2 separate regions of the Homo sapiens genome follow, and region 2 is linked to region 1. The links come from fine-mapping of genetic effects on gene expression. A gene starts in region 1. The other region holds a variant in brackets. All regions are shown on one strand. Distances are between the middles of the regions.

Evidence for each region.
Region 2: its variant is fine-mapped to the expression of SCN11A in hypothalamus (GTEx, PIP 0.98).

What each region holds. Positions count from the first base shown.
Region 1 is chr3:39,048,414-39,060,665 of GRCh38, reverse strand. SCN11A (sodium voltage-gated channel alpha subunit 11) reads left to right here and starts at 8,722. Exons shown (of 30, transcript NM_001349253.2): 1 at 8,722-8,805. WDR48 (WD repeat domain 48) reads right to left here and starts at 8,650. Exons shown (of 19, transcript NM_020839.4): 1 at 8,593-8,650. The coding sequence starts at 8,640. RefSeq lists a silencer at 8,447-8,546 and enhancers at 8,587-8,776, 8,797-8,846, 8,857-8,946, 8,617-9,489.
Region 2 is chr3:38,954,081-38,966,855 of GRCh38, reverse strand. SCN11A (sodium voltage-gated channel alpha subunit 11) reads left to right here. Exons shown (of 30, transcript NM_001349253.2): 3 at 6,433-6,573. Among named protein-coding and RNA genes, the nearest start is that of SCN11A, 91 kb to the left of the region's middle. The variant CT/T (reference allele first, on the strand shown) is at 8,577.

The sequences.
Region 1 (12,252 bases):
ATATTTACATAGTCCCTTGCCAGAGAAAACTCTTCCAACATGCCAAGAAAGATGGTAATCTTTACGAAGGAAAAGAGCAATGGTGATCTGGCCAAATACAAGTCAAAACCTTTTCTATGTACAAGAATGTTCACAGCATTGTGGCATTCACAATAATGTTACAAAAGTGGAAACAACCCAAATATCCATCAATGGACAAAACAAATAAAATGTGATGTGTGTGTGTGCATATATATATATATATATGCACACACACACACTGTACTGACACATGCTATAACGTGGATGAACCTTGAAAATGTGCTAAGTGAAAGAAGCCACATATTTTACAAAAGGCCACATATTTTATGACTCTATTTATATATAATGTCTAGGATAGACAAATCCACACAGAAAGTAGATTAGTAATTGCCAGGAGATTGAAGGAGGGAAAAATGAAAAACGGGGAGTAATTGCTAATGAACATAGAGTAATTAAACATTCTGGAGTTAGGTGACCAATAAACAACTTTCCGAATATACAAAAAAATCACTGAATTGTACACTTTGAAAGGGTGCACTTTATGGTATGTGAATTTTATCACAATGTTATTATTTTCTTAAACCTTCTGAATGTCAAAAAGTAACACGAGCAAGACTAAGAGAATAATGAAATAAATATGAAAGAAAGTTTACTCTTAACAAGATTCCTTATAAAATAAGAAAAAGTCAAATTTACCAACAGAAAGAGGGACAGTTACAAAAAGGGACTTTTTAAAAAAGAAATGGCCAAAAACCCCATAAATAATCAAAGACAAAATTAATATGAGATTATTTTACCTATAATACAAGAATTTTTTAAAATAACTGCCATTTTTGTTTCCCCTGAGGATAAATAAACACTTTCTGACAAAAGTTTTAAACTCTTTGAAATGTTCTTTAAAATTCAATTTCCAGAAATTTGTCCTTTAAAAAGGGCCAGGGCTGCAGACACAAATAGCTACAAGGATGTTGTTTTAACCCAGTCTTTTGGATGCAATTAACTGTAACTGAGATCTACTCAAACCAGCTTTTGTTTGTTTGTTTGTTTTTTAAAGGAGACTTCAACACAAGGATATCTTAACAGAGCCCAAGGTCAGGAAATACAGTCATCATTTATAAGAGGCATTTAAAAAATCAAATCATGACACTTCTCTGCTGAAACTTTCCAATGGCTTTTCACAAAATTTAAAGTTCAAACTCCTCAAATGCTTAGTTCTGACCCTGCATCCCCCACTCATTTCAAACTGACTGCCCCCAGCTTCTTTTATGACAGTCATTCCAAACTCCTTTCTGTTACCGTAAACACATCAAGCTCTTTCCCATCCCAGTACCTTCTCATTTACTGTTGCCAGTGTCATGAAGATTCACCACCCCTCGAATCCCTATAGGAATACTCTTTCTCCAGCTTTCATCTTGTCTAACTCACCCTTACTCTTCAGATCTTAGGAGAAAGGTCTCCTTGGAAAGGCCTTTCTGATCTCATTCTCCTCAGGGTTATGACCCTATCTATCTTACATTACTTATTTAACAGTTCTTACCACATTCTGTATTTTTTTTTTTTTTTTTTTTTTGAGACGGAGTCTCACTGTATCGCCCAGGCTGGAGTGCAGTGGTGCGATCTTGGCTCACTGCAACCTCTGCTGCCCAGGTTCAAGCAATTCTCCCAACTCAGGCTCCCGAGTAGCTTAGATTACAGGTGCCTGCTATGGCGCCCAGCTAATTTTTGTATTTTTAGTAGAGACAGGGTTTCGCCATCTTGGCCAGGCTGGTCTTAAACTCCTGACCTTCTGATCCACCCACCTTGGCCTCCCAAAATGCTGGGATTACAGGTGTGAGCCACCGCGCCCAGCCACATTTATATTTTTTGGTGTATCTTCTCCATTAGAATAATAGCTCCAAGAAGGCAAGGGACTTGTCTGCCTTGTTCCTTCCACCCCTGTGCCCCCATTATAGTGTCTGGCATATAAAAGACATACGTATCATTGCATGAATTGGCTTTCCAAAGCCACCAGGAACCAAGCTAGCTTCAATGTCAACTTCAGCCTCTCTCAATCTCTCTTTCTCTGGGGTTCCAGGGCTGCTTACCTAGCTCACATTTCCTTTAACTGAGACTGTGCAGCATATCTAAATCTTGATATCCAGACTTCTGGGAGATTATCTGACTGGTTAAGGCAAGAGTGAAAGAATAACCTGAATGTCAGAATTCTCATTCTAGGTGGAAAGTAATTACTGTTAAAACCAGTCTGGGCCAACCTCTTCAACGGTATTTCCTAAAGACGTGTGCTTTAAAATGCAAAAGAATTAGAAGTATCCTAGTTGGATAAATTCTAGCACGCACATCTGTAAAACACAACACTATTCAATCACTTAAAATGTTGATGTAGGCCAGGTGTGGTGGCTCATGCCTGTAATCTCTGTGCTTTAGGAGGCTGAGGTGGGAAGACTGCTTGAGCCCAGGAGCTTGAGGCTGCAGTGAGCTATGATGGCACCACTGTACTACAACCTGGGCAACAGCATGAGAGCCCTGTTTCTAAAGAATAAGAAAGAGTTGATGGAGGTCTAGACTGATAAACATGGGCGGAAAGCCATGATATATTTTTAGTGAAATATGTGTGGTCCAACACAACAATGTACAATAGTCATTATTATAAAAATGTTTCAAAATATTAAATATTTCAGAACAAATACACAAGTTTTGAAGACTATACATATATAAAAATAACCAGGGGCCAGGCGCAGTGGCTCATGCCTGTAATCCCAGCTTTGGGAGGCCAAGGCGGGCAGATCACGAGGTCAGGAGATCAAGACCATCCTGGCCAACATGGTGAAACCCCGTCTCTACTAAAAATACAAAAATTAGACGGGTGTGGTGGTGCGCACCTGTAGTCCCAGCTAGTCAGGAGGCTGAGGCAGGAGAATCACTTGAACCCAGGAAGCAGAGGTTGCAGTGAGCCATGACGGTGCCACTGCACTCCAGCCTTAAGACAGAGTGAGACAATGTCTCAAAAAAATAAAAATAAAAATAAAATAAAATAACCAGCAGTTATTTCTGAATGATGGGATTATGGTGATTTTTCACTCATTCATGTCTCTTTCATGTGTTCTGAATGTTTTACAAACAACATGTATTACTTAGTTTTTAAAATTTGATCATTTGTTATCCAAGTAATTCCTGCTTGTATTTAGAAAATCAAATAGTAATGACTGTAATGAAAAACAGTCTCTCTACTGTCTGGATAAGACTCCCACACCTAGTCTTCATCCCTAAAGGTAACTAATTGCAACTCAGTTGTTGCTACTGGATAGTTAACTGCATTTCTCTAAATATTGTGCTTATCCTATAACTTTTTGGCTCATCCATTTTAGACATTATCGATTTACTCATGCTACTGTAGATTAGGATGTAGTTCTGAAACTACCCTCAATATCTCCTCCCTCTACTCTTCTAATATAGATACATCCCTATTTTTAATTGAACAAATAATCCGTGCTATATTGTTGTGACTGTAAGGCTATCTACTAAGTACTATATTATGAATACATTTCCTTCCTCAAAGAGCTTTTTGTTTTCCCTAGAGTTTTAATTTTTCCTTCTTCAATGGTTTTCTCCACTTTAATTTCAATTTTAATTGCTGTACCACAGAACTCACCCCCACCCCTTTATTTTCTCAGAAGGCTTCCCCCTCCAAACCCTCCTTCTTCTCATTACAATCTAGGCTGACTGCCCTCTAGATCTGCTGGCACAGCTGTCACCTTTGGTGTTTTCCTTTACTGCTTTTCTGGGTTACAGCCATTGTTTCCTGAATTCTAATGCCTCCTTCTTTCTTTGTTCACTCCATAGTTTTGCTGAAATACATCCCCAATACCTTAAGAAAGTAATATAAGAAAAGGCACATGGGTTGGCAACTTAGTCCTTGCATGCCTGAAAAGGTCTTTCCTCCACATTTACACTTGATTTAGCAATTCTCTCAGCTCTTGAAAGCATTGCTGTAAGTTCCTCTAGCATCCAATGTTGCCACTGATTTCAATGCCATTCTGTTTCATACAGCTTTAAAGGGATCCTATTTTCATTCTTTCCTCCACTCCCTCGTCATCTCCTTCCCTAAGCTTTCAGGATTTTCTCTTTTTCCTTGGTGTTGTGACATTTCTTGTTTGTTTTTTCTATCATTAGTTTTTCTGTGCATTTAGAAAGCCCCTTCGATCTAGAAATTTGCGGCACTTAAGCTCCGGGAAATTTTCTTGTATCCATTATTAATCATCATCTCTGTTTTCTTTGCTCTTTCTTGAACTCAAATGAGTCAGATACTGGAACTTTCAAACTGATCCCTCATCTTTTATGCATTCTGTATTATCTATCTTTGTCCTTTCATTTATTTTTGTAACACTTCCTTTACTATTTTATAACTGGAGGTTTTTTCAAAGCAAATTATAGTATGATGGAAAAAAAATCAAAGCAATATCTTCAATAAGGAAATGGCTAGACAAATTATGGTACATCCATTCTATGTGGTCATTAAAGAACGAAAACTATATATGCTGATATGTTTCAAGACATGTCACCTTAAAAACTTGTTATCTGCATCCATTAAAGTACAGAGAAAAAATTTAAAATGTCTGGCTATAGAAAAATAGAGGAAAATGGATTTAATTCTTTCAACGAATATTAACTAGGCACCCACTTGTTGCCTGGCACTATTCTAAATGCTGAGGATACGGTAGTGAGCACAAAAGTCCTCTTGGCATTTAGCTGGGGAAAGAGCTTAACTAGAAGTGGCAGCAAGTTAAGCGAAGTATTTTTTTTCCCCAAGCACTGTGAAGCACTGAAGGAAGAGGCCATAACAGGAGGAAAAATGGAGGCACAGAGAGCCAATCAACAGACTCAGGTTGCTGGAAAATCATACCACCAAGGGACTGCTAAGGATGGAAAAGACTTGCTTTGATATCCTGGTTACCAGAGAAAATGCTACATCATGTATCTGAATTCACATATTTGATTATGTTTCTGACAGTCACAAATCCATCCCTCTTCCCTCGTATCTCTAGTTTTCCTAGAAGTTGAAGATGGTAGGACATGGACTCATTTAAAATTATGTCTACAATTAATATGCAGTATGTTTGGACCCCTCTCCACTGATTTTAAGTATCATTTTATTTTATTTTTGAGATGGAGTCTCGCTCTGTCACCCAGGCTGGAGTGCACTGGTACAATCTCGGCCCACTGCAACCTCCGCCTCCTGGGTTCAAGCGATTCCCCTGTCTCAGCCTCCCAAGTACCTGGGATTACAGGCATGCGCCACCATGCCGGCAATTTTTATATTTTTAGTAGAGACGGGATTTCGCCATGTTGGCCAGGCTGGTCTCGAACTCCTGACCTCAAGTGATCTGCCCACCTTGGCCTCCCAAAGTGCTGGGATTACAGGCATGAGCCACCACGCCTGGCCTCCACTGATTATTTAGCAATATTTTTAAGTCTCAAGGGTTTGTCTTGGCCTACAACTTGACAAGGAGCTCAGGGCTACTGTCTCGTGGTCTGAGACAGTCAGGAGACAAAGTATATTTACTCCAAGTACCCATGTATGCTTTTTCCAAGATGAGAAGTTTTCTTTTTGATGTATAAGAGCAAATAATGTGGTAAAAAGTTCAAAAATACAAAGTTGTGCATATTTCAAACTAAAAGATATCCCATGTCCTGTCTTATCTATAATCACACAATCTATTCCCAAAGGGATAATCACTGCTATTACCCTTCCTGACTTTTAAAATGCATATTTCCTTTGTGGAAATGGGAATATGCCATGTTGACTTGCTTTTTTGACTCTCTCTCTCTTTGAGGCCTCCCTGGAAGACGAGCAGATCCTAGCACCATATTTCCTGTAAAGCCTGCAGAACTATGAGCCAATTATGCCTCTTTTCTTTATAAATGAGCCAGTCTCAGGTATTTCTTTATAGCAATTCAAGAATGGCTTCACACAACACCCTTGCATAAGTAGGGACAGATACATGCATATGCAATTTTGTAGAATATATTTTTAGATAAGGAATTCTGGGCTAAAGGGAATGTTTATTTAAAAATTTGACAAAGCAAGACACAAAACAGTGAATACTATGGCTCCATTTATAGCAAAAAAATATGTTAAGTCAGGTACACAAACAGCAAGAGGTATAGAACAGCGGTTCTCAACCAGCGGCAATTTTGCCCTTGAGGGGACATTTGAAAATGTCTGGAGACATTTTTAGTTGTCACAACTGGGGAGATGCTACTACATCTAGTTGGTAGAAGCCAGGGATGATGCCAAAGAACCTGTGATGCATAGGACAGCTCCCTCCCTCAGACACAGCGAAGAATTATCCAGATGAAATTTCAAGAATGTTCAGGTTGATAAACTCTGGTCTAGGATTAAAACATGACATTGCCCGCAGTAGCTTTCTTGGAAGCATGGAGGGCAACTCTAATTTATGTTTTTGTTTGTTGGGATTTTTACAATGAACACGCATTAGTTTAAAAAACACCTCATAGACAATGATGGTTCAGATGAAATCAATCCCTGTGGCTTCTCAGGCTGCTTCTATACCTTAGGGACAAATTCCGAAAGTTCCCTGAATCTTCTCTTCAGCAGGTTAATCTAAGACAGCTCTTTCAAAAGTTCTTCATAGGAAATAATTTCAAGTCAGTTCACCAATCTGATTGCTACCTATGAAGAACAAGGTCCTAAGTGCTGAACACCAAACTCTAATTTTGTACTTTGACCAGTGAAAAGTGGAATTATCTATCACCTGCCTCATTCTACGTGCACTGGCTCACATTCAGCCTATTGGAACACTGTTTTTCCAAACCTGCTGCAGTTAATTTACATTTTCTCCATCCCATACTAGTACAATTGCCTTGTAAGTCTTTTTAAAATATATATACTTTATTGCATGCATTTTGGGAGTGGGCAGGCCTGGGAAGGAAGCAAGCAGGGAACACACTGCAGTAATAGGAGTTTTAAGTCTTAATGCAATAAACTGAAAGGCCTGATTAACTACCCTTACTCTCCTAAGATGTACACCACCATAGAGTCTATAATACAATCGGGTTACTTTTTGAGTTATATTTCAGTCCCAAGGAGACATTCTCACTACCTGCCTTGGATGCTGGTGATACTTAAATCCTATCACTAATGCACTGAAAAACACCTAATAGGGTGAGTTTAGACTTATTAATTTCACTCATTTCAACAAACATCCAGTGAGTGCTTAAGACACTGTACTGATCAGTGAGATCAATAAAACCAAGATGTGAACTAATCAGAAGACTTTATGGCCTACCACCTTCTGCTGGGATTACCTTACTGAAGGACCCCTTCATCTAACTACCTTTATCTGACACTTGATTTCAACCCGCAGAACTCCATATAATGCTGTGTTTTATAAAGAAAGCCTAGGTGTTAATTATTTCTACACCCTTTCAATCCCTTTTCCCCTTTGGGGGCCACCCTAAGTGCTAGGTAAATGTTTAATGAATAAATGCACCAAACTGCCACTACCACATACAATATACCTGCAGGCAAACACCTGTAAGAGGGCTTTTATTCCCTGCATCACTGAAAATATTAAGTGGCAATAACTATTTTTTAATATTATTATTATACTTTAAGTTCTAGGATATATGTGCACAACGTGCAGGTTTGTTACATAGGTATACGTGTGCCATGCTGGTTTGCTGTACCCATCAACTCGTCATTTACATTAGGTATTTCTCCTAATGCTATCCCTCCCCTAGCGCCCCCAGCCCCCGACAGGCCCCGGTGTGTGATGTTCCCCGAAGTGGCAGTAACTCTTAAGCGTAACCGCAAACAAAAGTGAATTCACAAAGGCATAAGGCACAAGACACACACGGTAAGATTAGACAACTCTTTACCACATGGACAATAAATTACACAAACAATAAAGACAGATTCAGCGATGCACACTTAAGATGAAGAAATGGTGAAGAGGAACTTAAATACCAAAACAATTAAAATTATAATTTCCCCACGCACATTCTTATGTCACTTAAACCTACCCAGGGGACAGCTCCCACATAAGAGAGGGCTGGGGGCTCCCAAGTGCGGAATCCTCAGCAGAAACCCCGCAGGGCCGTTGGCGCTCCGCCGCCTCGCCACGCCCCCGCACAAGCCGCTCACTCCTCCAACGCCCACCCCCCTGGGAAACCCCTGGAGGCCTCGGCTCCGACGCAGCGAGGGCAGAGCGCTTCGAAGAAAGACAGGGCAAGGGGGAGGCAAGTGGGCGGGGAACGAGCCTATCCCGACCCCGCAAGTCCACTCCTACAGAAGAGCGGCGACAAGCAATCCCGGGCTCAGAATGCCGCCCACGAGGGTCCCGGGCCTGGGCCCCAAGGGCCAAGCAAGCCGACCCCCGCCCCTTCCTCAAGCCGTTAGCGCCGCGGCCCCACCCCTCGTGGCCGGCCGCGCCCCGCCCCGTTCGCCCCATGCCGCTACCCCAGCTGGTCGTGGCGCCGGGCACCTTCTAGCTGGAGTGGGCCCGGAGCTGCCGGCCGCGTCCGGAAGACCGAGGAACCGGGCTTCCATACCTGCACTTTCCTCCGCCCTGCTGTGTTCTGCCGGTGATGGGCCGCCATCTTGCATGTTGACACTCCGACGTCACTTCCGGAGGTGGCTCAGAGCGGGAGGATGTCCTGCCCCTTTCCCTTTGGCCAAGGGTTAGTGGCGGGGCTGAAGGTAAACAGGCTGTTGTGTTTCCTCGGTGCTGTTAGTTGCTGTGTGGCCGGTAGCCATGTGATGAGGTAGATGCACCTAAAAACAAAACCACTGTGCAAGTATAATGCTGATGGGGAGAGAGCCACTTTTCAGGGCTGAGGGAGCAACACGAATTCACTTGTGTGGTCCTAGACCCTGGCTTGCGCTCTTTTCCGCGCCCTCCCCGAGAGGCCCAAGCAAAACGAAAGCACTGAAAGAATTAACAGTGCTAGACATGGCGCTGGACCATCTCCTGACCTTTCCTAGGCAGGCAGGAGAACCAAGTGAACCAAGTGATTTACTGTTAAGTACCTAAAAATGCGGAGAATTATGTCGTGGCCTCAAAGGGGGAGAGATAGAAGTCCTTGCAAAGGAGGTGGCCTCCATCTTCAGGGGGAGCAAAGAATCCGTTTAAATTAAAAGGATAAAAAGTGGGGCCATAAAAGAACGAGATCATGTCCTTTGTAGGGACATGATGGAGCTGGAGGCCCTTATCCTTAAGCAAACTAACAAAGGAACAGAAAACCAAATACCGCACGTTCTCACTTATAAGTGGGAGCTAAATGATGAGAACACATGGACACAAAAGAGGGGGACAACACACACTGGGGCCTTTCGGAGGGTGGAGGGTGGGAGGAGGGCGAGGATCAGGAAAAATAACTAATGGGTACTAGGCTTAATACCTGGGTGACAAAATAGCCTGTACAACAAACACCCGTGACACAAGTTTACCTATATAACAAACCTGCACTTGTACCCCTGAACTTAAAAGTTTAAAAAAAAAAAACAAGACAAAAAGATGTTATAGGAAGGCGAAAACGGTACACCAGCTAAAATTGTTCCCAGAGACAATTCTAGTTTAAATCATCTCTTATACTGGAACAGTTAGGTTTGACTTAAGGTGGTTTTCCTGACCACTAATTATAAGAGCTGAGGGTGATCAGACCCTCTCTAGTGAAAGTGAATCCTATAGAACTACACTGTGGGATATAGCATATGATGTATCTGCTAGTCATTTGTGGCTCTTGAGCACTTGAAATATAGCTAGTTCCAGTTGAGATATGTAATTGTAAACTACCCCCAAATTTCAAAGACTAGTTTGAAGAAAAGAATGTAAAATATCTCATTAATAATTTTTTGTATTGATTTCATGTTGAAATGATGTTTGGGGGTATATTAGGCTAAATAAAATTTATTAATTTTGTCATGGATATTAGAATATTTAAAATTACATATGTGGTCACAAATTTCTGTTGCATAGTGCTAGTATATAAGTAATGCTTAGAAAAGTTGTCTTGACAAATACTTCTTAAATTAATAAAGAAATGTGAATTAGATGAGTAAAAATTGTGATGGCAGAAAGCTTCTTAAGCAAAACTGGCAGTGATAACTTATAGGTAAATTACTGCATCATTACAGGCTTATTCATTCACTGATTCATGTATTCATTCATTTAACAAAATATTATTTAGCATATCATATATGCCAGGCACTATATTAGGTGTTGGGGAATCAGTGGTGAGTGCACATAGTCATAGAACTTAGAGTCCCAGGATGAGACAGGAATTAATACAGAGATAAGTACTATGAAGAAAGATGATTGTAAGACAGGAAGTATCTTGAGTCAAGAGTTAACTAGGCAAGGAGAGGGAACAGTCTGAGCAAAGGTCTTGTAGCAGGAGAGAGCATGGAACATTACAGGAACTGAGAGTCAAGGCTTAGAGTACAGAGAAGTGAAAGGAGTATGCAGAGGCCATACCCAGCAGGATCTTTTAGACCAATGGGAAGCTGTTGAAATACAGGTAGGGAAATAATATGTCTGTATTTTAAAAATTGCTTAAGTGTCTATTGAGCACCTATGATGTGCAAAATACAATACAGGTATGTTGCTCTGGACAATATACTGGTACTTGCTAGAAATTGATATGTTGTAGTCCTGCTTTGGACCTGAAAAATATTGAAATAGTGAAGTTCTTTCAGTGGGCAGAATTTTCACCAGTATGTTTTGATGTTCAGTTTGGCTGAAAGGAGAAATGGTCAATTCAGGGTCAGAGGATAATTTTTTGGCCAGTTTGTGAAGGACATGGAAAGAGCAAGACTGGAGAACTAGTGACAAGGAAGACTCCAGAAGGGATATAGTGATGGACCTCTCAGAATAAATCTTAAGAATCATATGGATGAAATGAACTGCTTTGTGATGAAACTCAGCCTCACTGCCTGCTCAGTAGAATCATGAAATAAATGGCAATGGCAATGGCAACAGGATTGGAGCTATGCATGGGATCACCAAGCCACCGCTGGGTGTTCAGAAGCAGTGACCAATACCCCATGCTCTGGGAGGGTCAGCCAGTCACATGTAGGCAAGTCTATTCCATTGGTCATTGGCCCTCCCCATCATTGAGGGAGTTCTTATTTGTCCTCTCTAAAATATGTTTATTCTAGATTGAGATTTGCTTTCCCTGCTCACTGTACTTCCGCTGACACCACCATCTAGGGAATTACTCAGTGCTTTAGACACTATCATTTTCTCTAACACTATATTGCTTTTGACCAAGAAATTCACTCTGCAATGAAAGAAGTAATGCAATGGGCTATTGCCCATGGAATTTATTGGTCTAATTGTGTACTCAATCACTGAGAAGTATCTTGTCTTATTGAAGATATATTGAAGACTTAGCTATGGTGCCTTCTGGGAGATAACCCTTTTTGATACTGTCCTGTAGGATGCAGTATATGCTCTGAACTACTGTCCAATATTCAGCACTCTTTTTTCCTGTTCCTTTTATCTATTGCTGTTTAACCATCTGCAAAATGCAATGGTTTAAAACAATTACAACCCTTACTTTACTTACAAATCTGTAATTTATGCAGAGCTTCATGGGAACAGATTGTCTCTGTTCCACTATCCACTTCACATCAGCTGGGGCAGCTAAAAGATTGGGGCTGGAATCATCTGAAGACCCCTTCTCTCACATGTCTGGTGACTGATACTGGTGTTGGCCTAGTCCTTAGCCAAAGCTGTGGCTAGAACACCTTCTCATGATCTTTCCACAGCACTATTTGGTTCCTCACAATATGCTAACTGGGTTCCAAGGATGAGCATCCCGAAGAAGAAAAATCTGGTTGAAAGCTATAATGCTTTTTCTAAACTCACAGTGGAAGTCATGCAGTGTCACTTTAAGCCATAGTCAATTCATTAGAACTTAGTTACTAAGGCCATCAGTGTCTAAGGAGAGGGGATTAGATGACTCCTTTTTTTATGAAGTATCAATAAATTTGTGGATGTATTTTTTAATTGACACATAATAATTGTACATATATATGGGGTACAGTGTGATATTTTGATACCTGTATACAATCTGTAATAATTGCTTTGGGAAAATTCAATATCCACTCTTTTAGCTATTTGAAAATATGGAATAAATTATTGTTAATCATAGTCATCCTACAGTGATATAGAACACCAAAAATTATTCCTTCTACCTAGCTGTAAT
Region 2 (12,775 bases), 94 kb after region 1:
ATGAAAGTATGCAATGCACTGCATAAACATGGTCAAGAAAGGCTTCACAGAAGCCAAGGAGAATAATAGATACCAGAGGCTGGGAAGGATGTGGAGGGCAGTGGTAGGAAGAGAGATTGGTCAGTGGGTACAAACATACGGTTAGGTAGAAGGCATAAGTTCTAATGTTCAACAGCAGAGTAGGGTGACTGTAGTTAACAACAATGTATTCTATATTTCAAAGCAGCTAGAAGAGAGAATTTGAAATGTTCCCAACACATACAAATAATAAATATTCAAGGTGATGGATACCGGCCCAGATACCCTGACTTGGTTGCTACACATTCTATGCATGCAACAAAATCAAATATACCCCATAAATGGATAAAATATTGTATAGCAATAAAAATGTACAATCCTTGCTACTCTCTCCTCTTACCTTGCTTCATCTTTTTTTTGTAAAATACTCCTACCTCAAATTACATAATTTATTTGTTTTGTAATGAATGAATGATCTATAATGATAATAATGAACTATGACATTAACAAATGTTAATTTCCTTTGTTATGTGAAACTGATACACAAAATGATGTCCCTCTGGTTCAGATCTCTAAAGTGAAGTCAGGAAGCCATTCTAGGGAGGACTGACGACCTGCAACCTTGCAAACAACAACAACAAAAACCCTCAGAAACTTGCCTCGAATTTTTGGGTTGGGCCAAACAGCCTTGATGGCAACGTTCTGGAAAGCAGCTGAATTTCACCAGCGCTGCAACTTCTGAACAGAAACAACCAATGATCTCAGGTACTAAGCCAGCTGCCTCTACCAGTGATATATATTTTTTCAAAACAACTTGCATAATCATCCTCAGCTTCTTTTTTTTTTAATTTTTTTTAAGGGACAGGGTCTTGTTCTGTCACCTAAGGTGGTGTAAAGTGGCACAATCCTAACTCACTGCAGCCTTCACCTCCAGGGCTCCCATGAGTCTCCTGCCTTAGCCTCCTGAAGTGCTGGGATTGCAGGTGTGCACCACCATACCCAGGCCTCGGCTTCCTTTTAAAAATGCATACTCCCCTCCCTTTCTTTGGAACACAAGCTGACTTCTAGTCGAATCTGTGTCTTCCAAATTGCAATTCTTAAGACTCCAATAAACACCTTGTCATATGAAAAAAAAAGAAAAAGAAAGGCTTCACAGAAGCAGCAGAAATTCAGAGATTGGGAAATGCGTGAGAAGAAAGGCAAGAGGAGAGCACTGCGACTTTAGCAAGACTCAGAGTGGCCACAAGGTCTGGTCAGGGCAGGGAACAGAGAAGAGCAAGATGTGGCTGGAACAGGGGTGGTCAGGATAGGGACAGCTTACCAGGAGGAAACTGGAGCAGACTGTCGATTGTGAAGGCCTTCATGATGGTCAAGATGAGAGGTGAGAAGGGCTTGCACTGGGCGAAGCTGGCTGGAAACAAAAGATGGGAATGAAGAAACCAGACCTTACAAACGTTGTCTTACAGGGGCCTGGCAGGGCCTCCTTCCCAGGACCAGACATACAAGATTGAGGAGCCAGGGCTGGGTCTCAGAAAGGACTATGAGGAGGTTAGCAGTTATTTTATTTATTCACAAACAATTATTAAGCACCTATTAAGTGACATGCACTGTTTTAATCACGGCACGGCAGTGAACAAGATCATGAAACTCTTCTCAATGAGTATGCTTTCTGTAAGGATCTACTAGGAGTCTCCATTAGAACCCTGGAGGAAGTGCTTCCTAGCCACGGATTCTGTGCTTCCTCAGAGCTGTCTCTGAAGAATCAGTCACAGCCAGTTCTTTTGGTTTGCTTACTCTCAGTTTCCCCACACAATGCTCTGTTCACTTTGGCTGTTCACTCTTCTAAGCGGCACTCATCCTACACTGAACGTTGTCCATTGACATCTGCTTATTTGCATGGATGTCAGCAGTGGCCCACATCAGGGAAACAGAAGACTTGGTGGTTATGCCTAAAGTAATCGAGAGCTTGAGACGGTGCCAGTATCATGCCTGCTGTGTGAATCAATACAAATTTAGGTTTGAACTCCTTGGTGGTATGCAAGAGGTATTCAAGGCATCCCTTCAACTTTGCCTCCTCTTCTTCCATGCTCCTCCTTTTGGCAATACCACATCTCCATGAAACCACTAGAGGTTGTCTACACATGCTTGTACCTCCAAGCCTGTGTGCCCTTGCACCTGCTTTTCATGGAAAGCCCATCCCCACTTTCTCCACCTGTTGAGTTCTTAGTCATCCTCTATGCTTCAGTTTAAATCTCACCTCTTCTCGGAAGCCATACCAGAACGAGTTGCTCCCTGTCCCATTCTGTGAAAGCCTCTGTATCTTACTTGCAGCTCCTTGATGATCTCTTGCTTTTTTATGGTTCTTTCTCAGCACACCTGTTCTTTCTCATGCAGCAGATGCATGCTCCTAAAGACCTAAGGTCTTGTTTTAATGTTTTCAGGATACAGCATGGTGTTCTGCAGTAGAGGCGGCTCAATGTCATCTTTGCTAAATGAGCAGATGGGAGGTGTTGCTGCTGCTAAAGCTGATGCACCTTACCTGGCCACTGATGCTGAAGCCAGACTCCTCATCAGACGGCAGAACTGAGACTGGCAGGGTCTTGCTGCCTGCCATCACCAAGGGACGGCAATGTGCTGTGTGGCTCCAAGGATGCAAATGTGGGGCGCCTCTGAACGTGTCTGTTGTTGACATCCTCTTACAATGTGGACCCAGCACAGGTGCTCTGCTCCATTTGTCAGACACATGTTTTAATTTCCCACAGGACAGAAAAGTCCTGAATGCAAACTCCACTCAAGTGACCTGTGTGTGTATTATTCTTTGTCACTTAAGTCTTTACACTTGGAATCATTTGCATTTACCTTAAAGATGAAGCTAGAAAGATTCTTTGAAACTTCAGGAAGTCTGAATGTGACTTAAATGTGACTTAATTGTTCAGAAAAAATTGTTTAATTTTTTAAAATTTTTCTGTAAGTTATTGGGGTACAGGTGGTATTTGGTTACATGAGTAAGTTCTTAAGTGGTGATTTGTGAGATTTTGGTACACATATCACCCGAGCAGTCTACACTGTACCATATTAGTAGTTTTTTAATCCCTTGCCTCTCTCCCACTCTTCCCCCCGACTCCCCGAAGTCATTGTATCATTCTTATGCCTTTGCATCCTCATAGCTTACTCCCACATATCGGTGAGAACATACGATGTTCAGTTTTCAATTCCTGAGTTACTTCACTTGAATAATAGCCTCCAATCTTATCCAGGTCACTGCAAAAGCTGTTAATTCATTCCTTTTTATGTCTGCATAGTGTTCCATTATATATATGTATCTCCATCATATATATATATATCTCCATCATATATATATATCTCCATCATATATATATATATATCTCCATCATATATATATATATATATATCTCCATCATATATATATATATATATATATATCTCCATCATATATATATATATATATATATATATATATATATCCATCAAATAGATATAGTTTCTTTATCCACTTATTGATTGATGGGCATTTAGGTTGTTTCCATGATTTTGCAGTTGTGAATTGTGCTACTACAAACATGGATGTACAGATTATTTTTTTTTTTAATAAAGACTTCTTTTCCTCTGGGTAGATACTCAATAGTGAGATTGCTAGATCAAATAGTAGTTCTACTTTTAGTTCTTTAAGGAATTTCCACACTGTTTTCCACAGTGGCTGTACTAGTTTACATTCCCACCAGCAGTGTAGAAGCATTCCCTGTTCACTGCATCCACGCCAACATCTACTGTTTTTTGATTTTTTAATTATGGCCATTCTTGCAGGAGTAAGGTTGTATCACATTGTAGTTTTGATTTGCTTTTTTCTGATCATTAGTGATGTTGAGCATTTTTTCACGTTTGTTGGCCATTTGTATATCTTTTGAGAATTGTCTATTCATGTCCTTAGCCCACTATTATTATTATTATTATTATTTTATTTTTTATTTTTAGACGGAGTTTCACTCTTTTGCCCAGGCTTGAGTGAAGTGGCATGATATCTGCTCACTGCAACCTCCGCTCCCTGGGTTCAAGTGATTCTTCTGCCTCAGCCTCCTGAGTAGCTGGGATTATAGGCGCCCACCACCATGCCCAGCTAATTTTTGTGTTTTTTGTAGAGATGGGGTTTTGTCATGTTGGCCAAGGTCTTGAACTCCTGACTTCAGGTGATCCATCAGCCTCAGCCTCCCAAAGTGCTAGGATTACAGGTGTGAGCCAACGCATCCAGCCCTTAGCCCACTTTTTGATGGAATTGAAAGAAATCATAGATGACACAAACAAATGGAAACACATCCCATGCTCATGGATGGGTAGAATCAATATTGTGAAAATGACCATACTGCCAAAAGCAATCTACAAATTCAACACAATCCCCATCAAAATATCACCATCATTCTTCACAGAATTAGAAAAAACAATTCTAAAATCCATATGGATCCAAAAAAGAGCCCACACAGCCAAAGCAACACTAAGAAAAAACAACAAATCTGGAGGCGTCACACTACCTGATTTCAAATTATACTATAGGGCCATAGTCACCAAAACAGTGTGGTACTGCTATAAAAATAAGCACATATACCTATGGAACAGAATAGAGAGCCCAGAAATAAACCCAAATACTTACAGCCAACTGATCTTCAACAAAGCAAACAAAAACATAAAGTGGGGAAAGGACAGCCTTTTCAACAAATGGTGCTGGGATAATTGGCAAGCCACATATAGAAGAGTGAAACTTGATCCTCATCTCTTGCCTTATGCAAAAATCAACTCAAGATGGATTAAAGACTTAAACCTAAGGCCTGAAACTATAAAAATTCTAGAAGACAACGTTGGAAAATCCCTTCTAGACATTGGCTTAGGCAAGAATTTCATGACCAAAAACCCAAAAGCAAATGCAATAAAAACAAAGATAAATAGCTGGGACCTAATTAAACTAAAGAGCTTTTCAGCAGAGTAAACAGACAACCCACAGAGTGGGAGAAAATCTTCACCATCTATACATTTGACAAAGGTCTAATATCCAGAATCTACAAAGAACTCAAACAAATCAGTAACAAAAAAAACCCAAACAATCCTATCAGAAAAATAATTTTTTTAAAGAGTCTACATTTCAAAAGGCCAGGGCTCTTTAAGATAATGGATTCGGAGTCCTCTTACCTTTTCAAACACACACGTTGCATTTATGTAAAAAGTGCTTATTAACTCTAAGTACCTCTCTTATTCTTTGGTCTTCTCTTATTCTGGGAGTCACTGTGAAACCAGGCAAGGGCTTAGAATTTTTGATTCCTGCTTCAAAAACCCAAGCCATATGCTCCATGCCAGGCCAGGGGCTGATCCCACGTCTGTGGTTTCAATTCCTCTCCAGAGGACCTGGGTGTTGGCTTAGTAGGGGGAGAAAAGCAACCAGGCATTTTTCCTCTTAAAAATCCACAGATACTTCGATTTAGTGTTTGCTGAGTGTTTTTAGAGCTATTATCACATTTGCTTCTTAACAGTAAAAAGATTTGAAAGAATTATCATATTTAACATGGAGAAAACTAAGGCTCAGGAAACTAAGTGATCTTTCCAATAACATGCAGCTGAGAAGTGGTGGAGCCGAAACCAGTATTCAGCGCCCCTTGTGGCAGGACCAAAATTTCCTGTTTCCCATCCTGCACTCCCGTAAGCACCTACTTCCTTGTAAACACTCACCCTGTACCCTTTATCTCAGCTGACTGTCAGCTAGTCTCCTGAAGGTGACAATAGCTTATGGTGTGATACTTTCCAGGGAGACTTAAATTTTCCCCAGGAATAAAAAGCAAACAAACAAACAACAAAAAAAACACTAAGAGCTTACTTGGGGGAGTTTTGGGTTGGTGACAGTCTGCTGCAGAGTTGTCTGGATGACCAAAAGTTCTCTTGGCATCCCTATGGCCACCACATAAGCATGCATGTTATCAATATTTTTCTAGGTCTGAACCCCAAGGTTAATGGCACAAGAGAAGAGAAAGGAGGAGATGCCAAATGGACACCCTGTAAGCAATTCCATGTTGTGTGGGCCTCAGTGGGTCCTGTGGGGGGTGAGACCCCAGAACACTGGGTTAGGAGGCCTGCAGCTTAAGCTTAATGCGGAAGCACAACCTGGCTTTTCACACAGACTTTTCTGTATTCCCTCACCCACTTGGATCAGGCCACAGAAAAAAAAACAACAACCTGTTTCTTTATTAATGATGCTTTCTGCAGAGTTAGATTAAGCACTGATTAAAGGCAGATGCTTCCAAAGTATAAATGTAAGTACCCTCTCAGTCACTTCTCCGGTTACAGGGTTTCCTACACAATTCTTTAAAATCACTTTGGCTTTCTTCCCATTTGCCTTCCTCCACACTCTCCACCCAGCCTCCAAGCCGCTCCTCCCAGAAGGGCTCCAGGCAGCTGCCAGGAGCAGAAGCTCGAACTCTGCTGAGAGACTTGCTCTGTGGAGAGCTTCAAGAAGTATCGCTGGGATTGCTGTCTGGAGCCACCTTACCAAGAAGTCAGGTAAGTCCTCTGGGCCGGGTGCAGGCCTGTTCTGTTCTTTCAAGTCTGGGACCTGCCACCTGGAACTTGGTTTGTTTTTCTCATCAGGGTAGAGTACAGGCCTTTTGTGATTATTTTCTGATCAAATTAGAAGCAGAGAGCGGGTACGAGATATATGGCTCAGCTGGTGGAGTCCATCGGGTTGTTCTCCCTGCTGTCAAATACACTGAGAGGTCATGGGCTCACAGGGACAGGAGATGGCCAGCTGGCCTAATAGGCGCTTGCAACCCTGGACTTTGTGCCAGCAATTGGACCTTGCTAGAAAAGGTCATCTCAAATCTTGTCTCCAACTGAGGCGATGGTAAAAATCCTCCAAATATTTTCTGAATTCCCCGTGGCCAATTTATTTAATCAGAAATTGACATGCATGATTTCTTTACTGAAGAGCTAGCAAACTAATCTTGGGATTGACTTTGAATTGAGATCAATTTCATTAAACTCTGATCATGTTCGTTTGCTTTCTGATTTTCTTATGGGATCTATGAAGAGGGAAAGAGATATCTTTTTTTTGTAACTTACGTTAATAAATATGGATTATGTGTCACCAAAGTTAAGAACTTGTTCAGGTTACACCTAAAATGAATGAGGAGGTTTTCTGTAGGGCATGTCTACCATTAAGCTGTCTGACTTGGGTGGTGGATGAGAGTGTCATGGTGAGGCCAGTGGAATGCCCGTAGGACTGACATGTGAATGAGGAGGTGGCAGTGGGTTGAGGTCCTGGGAGGCCACATCACACACAGTGAGGCTGCCATAGACGCATACCAGCCCAGTTGGAAGCTTGTGAGGCTTTCTCCTCTTGACTCCTTTCTCCCATCTCCTTGGGGATATCTTAGTTTTAAGTAAGAAGAACTAGGCACGTAGGAGGAATTGCATGGTGGCTAAGAGTATAAGGCCTGGAATGGAATTGTTTCGGCTTGAGATTTTCCAGCACTTACTTATGTGATCATAAGCAAGTTTTCTCAATTTCTGTAAGACCTAATGTCTTCTGCAAAATGGGGATGATGTAATCATGCCCACCTTGTAGATTTCTGGGGGAAATTCTGAAAGATAATCCATTTAAAGCATTTGCCCCTTTGTTTAGCCCATAATTCATAATTCTTATTAACCTCAGTGTGGACCTCTGGCATTCCAGATTGTGTGGACCAGATCTATGCTGAAATGTTCCAGGTGAGCAGTTGGAAACATCTTGCGATTTCCCTTACTGGTTAGGATAAAGTATGAGAATCACAGTATCAGTTTGCTCTTTGCCAAAAGAGAAAGCTAGAAACACCAGGCAAGGAAGGTATAAGGTTAAAGCCTCTGACCTTAAAGAGAAGGCCATAAATAATCCACCTTCATTCTAGATGAACATTTCTTTCAGATATCCCCAAGAATAATATATATCTCATAAAATTGTTTTGAGGGTTAAATGAGATAATGTATGTTAGTTAACACACTCCAAATTTCACCTGGAACAGCATAGACACTATGAAATGGTAGCTTTCTTTATGAAAATGTTCTTGTTATAGGGTTTAGTGAAAAAGTCACCATTTAAAATTGTTATACAGGACAATGACAGTCATATGAAATATATGGACAAAAAGACTACTGCAAAGAGATACACTAAAATGTTAAAACTTGTACATATTAGATGGCTATGGCTTGTGGGTAATAATTTCCTTTTCCTGATTTCTAAATTGTATTTAGTGAATGACTCTATCAGCCAGGGCCCCAGCAGGAAACAGATGGCAAGCTCAAATTGGACATTGTGAGGATATTTTATTAAAGGGACTTTTTACAAAGGTGTGGGCAGAGTACCATAACAGAAGCAGGTGATGGTGCATTTCTCAGGTTGGTGAGAGTGAGGTGCCATTACACCCCACATCAGAAGAGGCAAGGGAAGGGAGGTGCGAGCCCTGTAGATGGGCACCTCACAGGCACTGTGGCCCATGGCCACCATCAGGGGAAAGCTGGAAGAGAAATCC[CT/T]GCCCTCACTCTCCCATCATATTCCGGGTCACTTGCTGGATACCTCTCACCAACCAAACCCAGCCATAAGCCAGAGTGTGAGAGATCCCATGGGGGGCTACATGTGGGTCAGCTTTGCATCACTGAGCAGAGTGGGGAAGGATGGAGAGTGAGCTGGAGGGCACAGTGAGGCTATGTGACTTTTATAACTACAGGCGAATTCATAAATAAGAGCCAGGAGTCCGTGTGCAGCCCTCAGTGCTTTCACACTACGTTGCCTATTGTCCAGGCCACCTCCCTCCCTCCTCCCAGCTAAATGACTTCTGATTCCTCGTCACCATGCCCCACTCAGGGCTCCCACAGCACCCAACAATTGCCTCTGGTGCAGACGTACACATGGCATGGTTTCATCCTCCGTCATTTCTTCACCTGGTCTCCACAGATTGGAAGACCCTGGAAGGCTGGTGCTTTATATCCCTTTGCATCCCCAGTGCCCAGCACATGAATGAATGAACCATGGGAGGTCAGGCCTAAGTGCTTCTATAAAGCTTGCAGCTTTGGAAAGTGAGGCCTTAGTCCTCTCTCCTAGGTGAGTGTTTGCTTTCTGTCTATTCGGCAGGAGTGGGCCAGTCTACAGAAGAGCAGTTGCAGAGTTCCCTGTGACAGGTAGCCCTGGCCACCCTGCAAGACTGGCCCCTGGGCTCATGAAGGTCTTGCAGGGCCTCCTCACTGCTCTCCCAGGCTCTGTCATTCCCCACGTCAAGTCGTAACCCGCATGTGGCCGGCCTCCCAGTTTAAGACTGCATGCAAGTTGAGATTCTGCTTGTTTCCTTCATGGCCCAAGGGGATTGGGAGCCTGTCGTGCTTGATATCTTGTCTCTCTAGTTTGAATCAGAAGATGTTTTCATCCCCTGAAGGATTTTCACAATCCTTTTGCAACCTATAAAAGTAACACAAGCACATAATTCAAATAGCTTAGAAGGAGAAAATGTTGAGAAGGATATAACGTTAAAAGTAAAATGTCTCCACTTTCACCTATGCTCAGTCCCACTTTTAACCATTTTAGTGTTTAATTCTGGTCATTTTCTCTCTTTAATTTTTTTTTAAGTTTTATTTTTTTCTTTGAACTACTATGCCCAGGGACTATTTAATTTTCAATTGACAAAATAATCATTGTATATATTTGTAGGGGGTCTCTCTAACTTTAAATTAGCTTACACTGCTATTTCTTGATTTATACAGTTTGAGTAGAAGTTTTTGAATTGTCCCTATGGGAGATGAGGAATTTAGCTTATTGATGGTAATCCTTCTGGGCTCCCCATGATTCTTCCAGTTTTTGTTATCTGTATTTAAAATTTGGTTTTGTACTTATCTGTGTAATTTTAAGGTATAAACTTATTTTTGTATGGCTTGACCAACCTTTCATAGAGTGTCTTGACTCTCTAAATGTTTAAGGTGAGAAAATTGGTATCTTTAATCTTCCCTTCACTTTTTCTCTCCGACTTCAGCTTGTAGTAAAATTTTATAACATTTATAGCATTTGTAATCTACTCTATAATTATAATTAATTCTGCTTTATCTTTAGGATGATTGTGAAAATTAAAAACTAATAGATAACCTGAATTATATCATAATTTTGTAGCTACTATTTTCCGGAACCAAGAACTGTACTATATTTGGACCCATAATAAAGGTAAAGGAATGGACCCTGATGTTACTATCTGCTGCACATTCAAGGTCAAGGTCAAATGAATTATCTTATTTTTCCTGTTATACTGAAGGATGTTCCTTACCAAGGTTCCTGTCAAAATGGCAGGGTATCAGGGTTCAAATCATTTAGTTGGCTTTGTCTATAAACCATTACTTTTGAAGTACGTCTTATTTTGATGGAATTTCTCATTACCTTTCTTTTAACATTTGGAAAAACCATTTTCTGAAACATATTTTTTGTTACATAAAATTTTCTTTATAGTTTAAATATTTTTCCCAGGATTCTCTGACTTTTCTGTCAGGGCAATTGCTTCTTTTTGTTTGTTTGTTTTTGCTTTTTTTTTTGAGACGGAGTCTCCCTCTGTCACCCAGGCTGGAGTACAATGGCTCAGTCTTGGCTCATGGCAACCTCCACCTCCAGGGTTCAAGTGATTCTGCTGCCTCAGCCTCCCAGGTAGCTGGGATTACAGGCACGCACCACCACACCTGGCTGATTTTTGTATTTTTAGTAAAGATGAAGTTTCACCATGTTGGCCAGGGTGGGCTCAAACTCCTGACCTCCTGATCTGCCTGCCTCAGCCTCCCAAAGTGCTGAGATTACAGGCATGAGACACCATACCCGGGCTTTTGTGCCGAACGTGCAGGTTTGTTACATAGGTATACATGTGCCATGGTGGTTGAGCAATTGCTTCTTAAGCCTATTGATGTGTGGTTGACCAGAAATATTTTATTGCACTCTTCGGTTAAGGACATAATGTCTTGGATTCCATGCATCCTGCTTTTCTGAATTCTCTTTTCATTGTTTGGGAGTATATACTCAAGTAATTTTTTTTGTAAAGAGTCATTCAGAATCTGAAAATTTTATCTTCAAATTTGTTAGCAGGACTTGGAAAATAATTGCACTTAGCTAATTTAATTCTTTGATCAATTTTCTAGCAATGCAATCTATTTTCTGCACAGAAAATTTTCAGAATTAAGTATTTCTGTACAAATTTCACCATAAGGGTTTGAGTCATTTCAAATTTTACCAATTACAGCTTGTGCCATATTGATTTTCTATTAATTTATCAATTTTATCTATTTTGTGGATGCAGCCTTGATTTTCACAGTCGAATTTTCCTGAGTTTACTTATTAAAGAATACTTGATTCTTCCATTAATTGTTTTTTCAGTTAATAAGGAAATTTTACTGCATACTGCATGTGGTTTTATTTTGTCAGATTTATTTGAGTTCATAATTTTTATTCAGTTTTCCTTTTCCTGGGTCAATTTTTGCAGTTTTCAATATTACTTTCATTTTTTTTGGGACAGAGTCTCATTCTGTGGCCCAAGCTCAAGTGCAGTAGAGTGATCTCAGCTCACTGCAACCACTACCTCCTGGTTCAAGCGATTCTTGTGCCTCAGCCTCCTGAGTAGGTGGGATTACAGGCACACGCCACCACACCTAGCTAATTTTTCATTTTTAGTAGAGATGGGTTTTCACCATGTTGGCCAGGCTGGTCTCAAACCCCTGGTATCAAGCAATCTGTCTGCCTTGGCCTCCCAGTGGGTGTAAGCCACTGCACCTGGCCTCAATGTTACTTTTCTTTTCTTTTCTTTTTTTGAGACAGAGTCTGGCTGGGTTACCCAGGCTGGAGGGCAGTGGCACAATCTTGGCTCACTGCAACCTCCGCCTCCTGGATTCAACTGATTCTCCTGCTCAGCCTCCCGAGTGGCTGGGATTACAGGTGCATGCCACCATTCCCAGCCAATTTTTGTATTTTTAGTAGAGACAGGGTTTCACCATGTTGGCCAGGCTGGTCTCAAACTCCTGACCTCAGGTAATCCATCTGCCTTAGCCTCCCACAGTGTTAGGATTACAGACATGAGCCACTGTGCCTGGCCAATGTTACTTTTAAGATGTGGTTCTTTAGGTGTGTGTGTGTTTTTTTGTTTTTTTGTTTGTTTGTTTGTTTGTTTTTTTATCATCTATAACAAATTTTACTGTGTACAGTTTCAGGGGTTGTCAGTTTTATTTTGTGTTATATTTATTTTTAGCAAGTTTCTCTTTCTTAAGAACCCAGGCAAAATATCTCCCAGAGTCAAAATGGCAGGGTGAAAGTGTCCAGTTGCTTCTTTAATCGCCCCATTAGGATGGCAGCACCTGCCACTGGACTCCTTGCTGTAACTGAGCATAGGGTCCAGGTTTTACCATCCAGGGTCTTTCACAGCGCATCCATTTTACAGGATTGACTAGCATCCATATTGTGTTCACTGCAAAAGACTTATGCTCTGAATTAAATGTCTTTCTTGAGCTCTAGAGTCAAATGCAGCAGAGTCTCATTATATGCCCACTTCATTCATACAAATTCAATTACACATGTTCATGAGGAGGGGGAAATTGAAATAGTGCGGGGAATTCCATCATCCAGACCTATCAATAATGAGCTTGACTCTGGATGAATGTGGGACAGACAGTGATGAATCTACAGTCCTACATTCAGTTTCAGCTGACATATGGCTCTCACAGT